2 separate regions of the Homo sapiens genome follow, and region 2 is reported to be linked to region 1. Evidence: microRNA targets listed by miRTarBase, many of them from high-throughput screens and not tested one by one. Region 1 holds a microRNA gene; the other region holds the end of a gene's coding sequence.
Evidence for each region. Region 1 holds the annotated microRNA hsa-miR-5589-3p (UGCACAUGGCAACCUAGCUCCCA, at 2,420-2,442, shown strand). A microRNA usually pairs through its seed, bases 2 to 8, with sites in the 3' UTR of a target mRNA and lowers its output. Matches are read on the target gene's strand: a 7mer-m8 pairs with bases 2 to 8, a 7mer-A1 pairs with bases 2 to 7 and ends in A, and an 8mer does both.

Region 1 (4,000 bases):
CAGTATGCTAAGTAGGGGCCAGGGTCAAAGTAAATGCTTGATGAATCTTTGCCGGATAAATGTATATTATCTGCTGGATGCAGTGGCTCATGCCTGTAATCCCAGTACTTTGGGAGGCAGAAGTGGGCGGATCATGAGGTCAGGCGTTTGAGACCAGCCTGGCCAACATGGTGAAACTGCGTCTCTACTAAAAATACAAAAAATTAGCCGGATGTGGTGGTGCACGCCTGTAATCCCAGATACTCAGGAGGCTGTGGCGGGAGATGGCTTGAACCTGAGAGGCAAAGGTTGCAGTGAACCAAGATCGCACCACTGCACTACAGCCTGGGCAACAGAGTGAGATCCATCTTTAAAGAAAAAGAAAATTATATTATCATTTGATGGGGGGATCAGGGACCCTTCAATAGGCAAAATTTCCCAAGCTGGCTGAATTGACATCACTGTAGGGTGCAGATTCAAACAGACTCATCATCAAGCCCAACTGCTTCTTAGAGGCAGACACCACAAAGCCGTCTCAACATTCTCTTTAATAAGCCTGCTAAACATTGAGAATTATTTGAGGACAGAGAAAGCCTTTTTCCAGGAATGCTTCAAGCATGATGTGTTTCCTTCCCTGGTTTAATATGTATAATTTGCCTTCTGGAAAAGGAACCCAGAGACTCTGGCATGACTTAGGAAACAATAGACAATGGTCACAATTTACTAAGCATAACTGTCTCCTGCAAGGATGACGAAATCCATATAGCGCAAGGATTTGAAGCCCAAGAAGAGGACTTTGACCTATGGATTTCTCAGGAGGTTTCGTTATGGTGGATCCTGGAGTCAGATGGTCAAATGCCACATGCTGCTCACTCCCGGAATTGGGAAATAGGGAAAAAATGCCAGCACCTCCCCTGTTTGTGCAGCTGCCCTGTTTTGCCAATTTCACAAAGGCAAAAGTAGGGAAAATCCATCCAGGCTAGGGTAGAAAGATGTTTGCTCTCCTCCTGCCAGCCAATCCCAAGCAAGCCCTGAGTTCAGTGTCCTGGGTGTGCAAAGCTCCTTGCTGGCGGAGGGGAAGGCTTTAGGATATGACCTTCATGGCCAGGCACAGTGGCTCATGCCCGTAATCCCAGCACTTTGGGAGGTTGAGGCGGGTGGATCACTTGAGGTCAGGAGTTCGAGACCAGCCTGGCCAACGTGGTGAAACCCTGTCTCTATTAAAAATACAAAAATTAGTATTTTTGTACTAAGTACAAAATGAGCTTGCTGGCCCATGCGTGTAATCCCCGCTACTTGGGAGACTGAGGCATGAGAATTACTTGAACGTGGGAGACAGAGGTTACAGTGAGCTGACATTGTGCCATTGCACTCCAGCCTGGGTGACAGAGCCAGACTCTGTCTCAGAAAAAAAGGGGAGAGGGGCGTGGATAAGACCCTCATGGCTCATGGGACAGGCAGTTCTCCTACCACTCTGGCCCCCAAGGAAGCGGATGGGGCACTTCTCAAGCATATCTTGGAGGCTTGGCTGGGAAGTAAGAAACACCCCCAACTCCGCCCCATTGGATTTATAGGGATTCTTGCCCCACACCTGTTTAGATATTAACTCAGCCACTACAAGTCAAGGCAAACAGGCCAGGGCCAGGGCAGACAAGAGGACAGACAAGAGGACAGACATCTGCAGCCTGTGGCCTCCTGTCACCCTCCCACCCACCATGGAAATGCCCTGGCCCCTAGGGTGGATTCTGCTTCTTTTGGGAAGCCCCCTCATCCACGCTGAGCCTCTGTGAGTCTGGGGAATGGAGGGGGCTCAGCCGGCTTCCTGCACATCTGATGTCTGCGTGATTCCAGCTTATGACTCGTGTTCGGTGTCATTTTCCCTACTCAAGTCCCTTAATGCCCTTGTGTTAGTCTACTGGCAGGTACATCCTGGTGACCCCCCGAGTTCTGAGGGTTGGCAGTCCGGAGAGCATTCACATTCAGGCCCACTCAGACTCCAGACAGCCCCTCACAAGGACCCTCAAGGTGAACCTCACAGTGTGGGACTTCCCCATGAGGAAGACAGTGTTGGCAAGGAGCCAGCTCATTCTCTCACCAGGAAACAACTTTATGGACCAGGCACCTGTGACGGTGGGTGACAGGCTGGAATGTGTGACCCCAAAGGGAGGCTACAGGTCAGCAATAAAGGTAGAAAGGGGCAGACTTTCTGTCCAGAGAGTAGATAAAGGGCCCAAAGTACTTACCACTCCTCTAATATCCTGTGCATTTAGAAGCCAAAAGTCCCTAAGCCTGGGCTCCAGGAAGCCTCCACTAGCCCATTTGATGCCTCTCTGAGAACTATAAAAGGTGCCTTCTGTTGGTAGCTTGGGAAGATGAGCATGGACTTGATTTCGTCCTTCCTTTGGCTGGGTGCTCTTGTGCAGTGAGCAACCTACACAACTGCACATGGCAACCTAGCTCCCAAAGGCAGAGTCAGAAGACCCTCAGTCAATTGCTCCTCCCAGGATCTGTCCCAGGGCTTTACCCCCAGCCAGGGAGACCCCAGCAGAGCCTGAGGAGTATGGATATATATCTCTCTCAGGTTCCCGAGAGCCTGATGTACCTCCCAAAACCAGGGCAGCAATATGTCATCATCCGGGCAACTTGGGCACCCACCTCGGGCTCCTCATTCATGGAGAAGATGGTGCTGGTGGCTCTTCATGCTGGCTACATCTTTATCCAGACGGAGAAGACCATCTACACCCCTGAGTACTTGGGTACAGCCCCGAGGCACTTGGCTCGGGGCAATCACTGGCTCTCATCCCGTCTCTCCCAATGTCTGAGATACTCCCATCCCCTAAAATCTTCTCCACCTCCCAAGATCTCTCTCTATGCATAAGTGCCCCCCACCCCGCCACTGCCCAAGATGCAAACTCTCTCTCTCTCTTTCCCTTCCTCTACCCAATACTCAGAGTCCTCCTTCTCCCCTAGTTCACTACCGGGTGTTCACTGTGAACCACAAGATGGACCCTGTGACCAGGACATTCACTCTGGACATCAAGGTGGTCTTTCCCGATGAGGGGTGGGGGGTGGTGGTGGATCCTGGACACTGGGGTTACATGGTGTGCTGAAGTCCTGGGGGCATGAGCCACCAGGGCCCTCCCAGAGGGCAGTCACCAGCCCCACCCCCTATCCCCACAGAACCCAAAGGGAATCACCGTGATTAGCCAGAGTCTGATGGCCAAGGATGGCTTCTTTTTCAGCTCCTTTCACCTCCCAGAGCTTGTCAGGTGCCCTTGTCAGGTCTGGGAGCCCGAGGGGTGGCAAAGGAGGCTGTCATTCTCTGTCTCCATCTCTCTTAACTTTCTGTGCCTCAGTTTGGGGACCTGGACCATCGAAGCCAGCTACCAAAGTACACCCAAGCAGAAGTTCGAGGCTGCCTTTGATGTGAAGGAATATGGTGAGAAAGGTGTGGGTGGGGTGAGCAAGATGAATACGCCAGGGACAGGACTTGGAATAGAAAGGAGGTCTCAAGGGGAACCTCTGCTGTAACCCAGGGCCTGAGCTGGATGCTAAGTGTTGGGTGCTGGTGTTGCAGCCCTTCGGGCTTGACAGAGCCACCAAGGAAGGAGCAGGACTGGGAGGGGACGAGGGAGCAGGTAGAATACTGAGGGTGACCATGGCTTTTTTTTTTCTCCCAGTCCTCCCATCTTTTGAGGTCCAGCTGGTCCCAAATAAGACTTTCTTTTACCTCAAGGATGAGGCTCTGGGCGTTGACATCCAGGCTCGGTGAGCCCCCTTCCTCCCAGCTCTGCCAGAAGACCAGGGACACAAAGATTGAGTACAGAGAAACAAGCACCAGGTGCTATGGCTCACATCTGTAATCCCAGTGCTTTGGGAGACCAAGGCAGGAGGATCACTTGAGGCCAGGAGTTCTAGACCAGCCTGGACAACATGGCAAAACCCCTTCTCTACCAAAAAAAAAAAAAAAATTAGCCAAGCTGGCTGGGCATGGTGGCTCACACCTGTAATCCCAGCACTT
Region 2 (4,000 bases), not on the chromosome of region 1:
TATGCAGCGGGGACGTCATCCCTAAGGGTCTTCCTTGTCCAGGCCTGACACAGTCACACAGCAGCTCCACGGCCTTAGCTGGGAGAACAAAGCCGTCTCTGGTGGCAACCCCCGGACATGTGCTCAGAGTGGCAGGAGGAGGCCGGGCCACCCTGAGGGTGCCAGGCAGCCCAAGCAGGGGCTGTGGGCTCAGGGGTGAGCGCCTGGCGTGGCCTCCAGGGGCAAGGCAGGCTGCGAACCAAGTTCATGAGCTCAGCCGCTGCGTGGCTGCCAGGCCTGGGGGCTGCTTCCTCAAGGCCCTCCTTTGCTTTCATCCTTAGGTTCACCTGCTTCTCCAAGAACCTGCAGGCTGGGATTCCCCACAGATGCCTGCAGGCTCTGGAGGGCCCTCATCTGGGTGGAGGAGTACGGGCAGGCCACTCCTGACCATGCTCTGCGCCCACTGCACAGTGGCCTGGTGACCGGCAGGGCCCAGTGGCGGCCGGGAAGTCCGTAACTGGACTGGAAACAGAAAGGGCAGCCCCAGCACGGGCTTGCGACAGGATGGCTGGCCCTGCCTCTGCCGCTTAGCAGTGGGCCAAGTCAGCCTCTTCAACTCTGACAAGGAGCAAAGAACATCTACTTCCAGGTCACTCTGTTTTTAGGGGGAATGAAAGGAGAAATGTGCTTAGAGAGCCTGGCCTAGAGCCTGGCCAGGAACAGGTGCTTAGAACATGGGAGTCCCTCTTGTCCTCTCACCGACCTGCAATTCCTTTACGTGACCCCACTGGGTTCTCATCTCTCCAAGTGGCGGAGGACGTGGCTGGCATTTGTTCTTGGACTTGGGGTGGGAAGAAAGGCCTTAATTATACATTTGCAAGGGAGACTGCAGCAAAGCACCTGCTCCTTATCACCTTTGTGCCATTTCCAAGGCCTTTGGAGATACTTCAACTTTCCAGAGAGAAAGGGGAGGCGGTGGGGACAGTGTGCTCTGGTTAGCCGTTCTGGAGGGACAGAGGCTGCCAGCAGGGACAGAAGCAGTAGTGGGAAGTGCTGTGGGGGGACCTGAGGGATGAGGCCAAGACCCTTCACATTTCCAAGGGAACCCTTGTCCTTCCCTCCCACAGTGGCCAGAGGGCTCGTGGAGAAAAGTACTCTCCCAAAAGACAGAAACGCTCTCAATTCCTAGGTTTGAGCCAGAGTTTCATGCCTCAGTTCTCCTGCACGAGCCCCACTCAGGTGGGCTTATACACACGCATGTGCGTGCACACACACACATATACACACACACACACACACACACACAGGCACATGCTTGTCCTCACCCACCTCTCAGAAGGCAATAAATGGTGGGTTAGGAGCAGCCTAAAAGCTACCACAGACACCAACTCGTCCTTAACACTGTCTCTGCTTACTTATCTTAAGCTGCCGTTTACTACAACGTTCACAGTCATTTACTCTTATGCTAAGTCCGTAATGCTATGGAGAAGATGGCTCCAGCTCGCTTGAGTCCATGCAGTTTGTCCTCTTCCTGGTGTCCCTATCCATCCAGCAACTGCAGGAGGGCATGCGGGGGCACCTGGCTGGGACCCCAGCTCGACAGGGGCCTGCAGCGGCATCAGTGGGGGCTGTGGGAGCCCCTTCCTCTCCTGCAGCCGCCCTCACTGCTTATTCTGCGTCCTTGCAGACAGGGCTCCCACACCACTGCCTCTGAGCCTCCTAGGGTCCAGCGGCGCTGCCACAGGCCTCTTCCCAGTCATGGGGGCGGAGTGAAGGGCCCCTGGCATTACCTGTTAGAGGCAATCTCACAACCAGGGCACGAAAAGAGGTGAAGGACAAAGTTCACAAACCCTAATGAAGTGGGCAGAAGTGGCCAGAGCTCTGCCCTCTGCCCTCCTGCTGCCCCCACCTGCCAGGAGTCACCCTTGCTGTTGGGCTTTGTCACACAGGGCACCACCCGAGGAGCCACGGCAGACATAGGTGCCCCCTGTGGGTGCCACAGGGCTCCTCAGGTCCCCAGAACCACACTGGCTTATGTGAACGGAGCATCGGCAGCCAGCCTGGCAGCCCCCTCCCTGCTCAGCATCAGTCCCATGACAAGGTCCTGCTGCTGTGCCACCCAGGAGTCCTGAGAAGGCCACCCCCACCAGGGGCATCCTCGGGTCTCAGGGAGGGAGAAGTGGCCGCTTCCCTTATCCACAGAAATCAAGAGGTATCCGAGTGAAGATCGGGGTGGCAGAGGAGGAAGATGGGTCCACAAAGAGGCCTGGGGCCTGGAGACGGAGGGGCTGGTGCAGGGGCATGAGGTATTTCTGGCCCCGCCCGCCTCTTGGCCAGCTGCGCCGTCCGGCGCTGCCTCCCTTTCCTCCCGTTCCTCTGGGCCTCAGCTAGCACTACTGTGGGCTGCCCAGGACCTGCAGCAGGAGGCCGTCCCCGCTGAGGCAGAGGCTTCCACGGACGCAGGTAGTGCAGCCCCCAACCGCAGCATCAAGCCTCCACATCCAAGAGCCAACTCTTGGGGACCCAAAGATGTCAGGTCCCCATACTCTGAGGAATCAGGACACAGCCCAGTGCCTGACACCACAGAGTGAGGCAGCCCTTCGGGTGAGGGCCTGGGCCCCGAGGGATGGCAGCCACCACTGCCTAGGCAAACGCACCTGGGGCTGAACTTGGCGCCCGGCACTTTGAGGACGCCAGCACCAGTGGGCACTCGGAAGTGCCAGTTCTGGCCCAAATTTGGTGACCTGGGTCAGAGGGACCTTTCAGAATGACTTGTTCCCGTCAGCAGATACCGTCAAGACACGCCTGGCTCTGAGAGGGGCTGGGTGCCCGTGTGCCTGTATCCTCCTGGGGCCAGCACGTCTCAGAGGGTGTCCCTGTGGTCCCCGGGTCAGGGCACGGGGCTGAGGCACCTGGAGCTATTGTTGGCATGTGGTTGTTGCACAGATGAGCCCTTGGGGGAGGCGCGCCATGGCCGAGCACAGCGTCCTGGTGGTGGATCCAAGCAGGGCCGTCAACCGTCCTCCTCCCCAGAAAGCAACAACCCCTCCACCGGGGGCAGGGGTGCTGCTCCCCGACTTCCAGGCGACTGGGTGACAAGTCCATGGGATGTCCAAAGGGCAGGGTCCACCCCAGGGCCACTGGCTTCTTCCTCCCATGTCTTCTCAGGGCTGCTGTGAGATCCTGCAGAGAGGAACTTGTTCCTGGCAGCCCTGGGCCGGGGAGGATCAGCGACCCTGGAGAGTCCTAGGCAAAGCTGCCGGCCCTCAGGGTCTTCCAGGAAGAGACTCAACGGCTTAGTGGGGTCTGCCCTGGTAGGTGACAGGAGGGAGCGGAGGGAGCCGGTGGGCGTCACTGGGCGGCCAGGGCAACTGCCCGGGGCCCTCAGGGTGACTCCGTGGTGAGTGAGGTTTTTGGAGGACAACTGGTCATCACACAGACACGTTAGGAGCCGCTGGTCACTACAGCACACACAGATTAGTCATGGTTATGAACAATGTCCCCAGGGAGGCCGGGGTGTCAGTGAGGCCAGCTGAAGACAGGATGCGCCCACTTAGCTGCCCAGTCTCCGGGCCAGCCCTGCTGGGGCAGTGTGGGAGGGAGGGCTGGCGGAGGCGGCAGGAGGAGGCGGGGGCAGCAGCCCCTGCCGTCAGTAGTCTGGGCGGCGGTGGTCTCCCCGCAGGTGGCCGCTGGCTCCTCAGGACTGCGGGATCTGCTGACACCTGGTGGGGCTGGGCGGGAGCCTGGCGGCTGCGCTCTGCTCTGTGCGGAAGCTGTACTCGTACTGCAGGGGCGGGTGGGGACAGAGAGACACAGTCAGTCCATGGGACACTAGGGAAACCCCTCCACAGCCTCAGATCAAGATCAGGCAGAGGCCTGGGCCGCCTCGTGGGGCATCTTGACATGGCGCAGCTGGCCAGGCCGGTGCCAGCCAGAGCCTGCCCTCGTGGGCCCCTGAACTGTGCATGTGGCGTGTGTGCGTGGACACGCCTGCGGGGGTGACAGGCTCCTGTGGTGATGA

Region 2: the mRNA of MVB12B is a reported target of hsa-miR-5589-3p. Seed matches in the 3' UTR shown: 7mer-m8 at 1,287-1,293.

The regions. Positions count from the first base shown.
Region 1 is chr19:10,035,972-10,039,971 of GRCh38, forward strand. It overlaps MIR5589 (microRNA 5589), which reads left to right and starts at 2,383; the gene lies at 2,383-2,442.
Region 2 is chr9:126,502,940-126,506,939 of GRCh38, reverse strand. It overlaps MVB12B (multivesicular body subunit 12B), which reads right to left. Exons shown (of 10, transcript NM_033446.3): 10 at 1-3,763. The coding sequence ends at 3,677. Among named protein-coding and RNA genes, the nearest start is that of NRON, 94 kb to the right of the region's middle.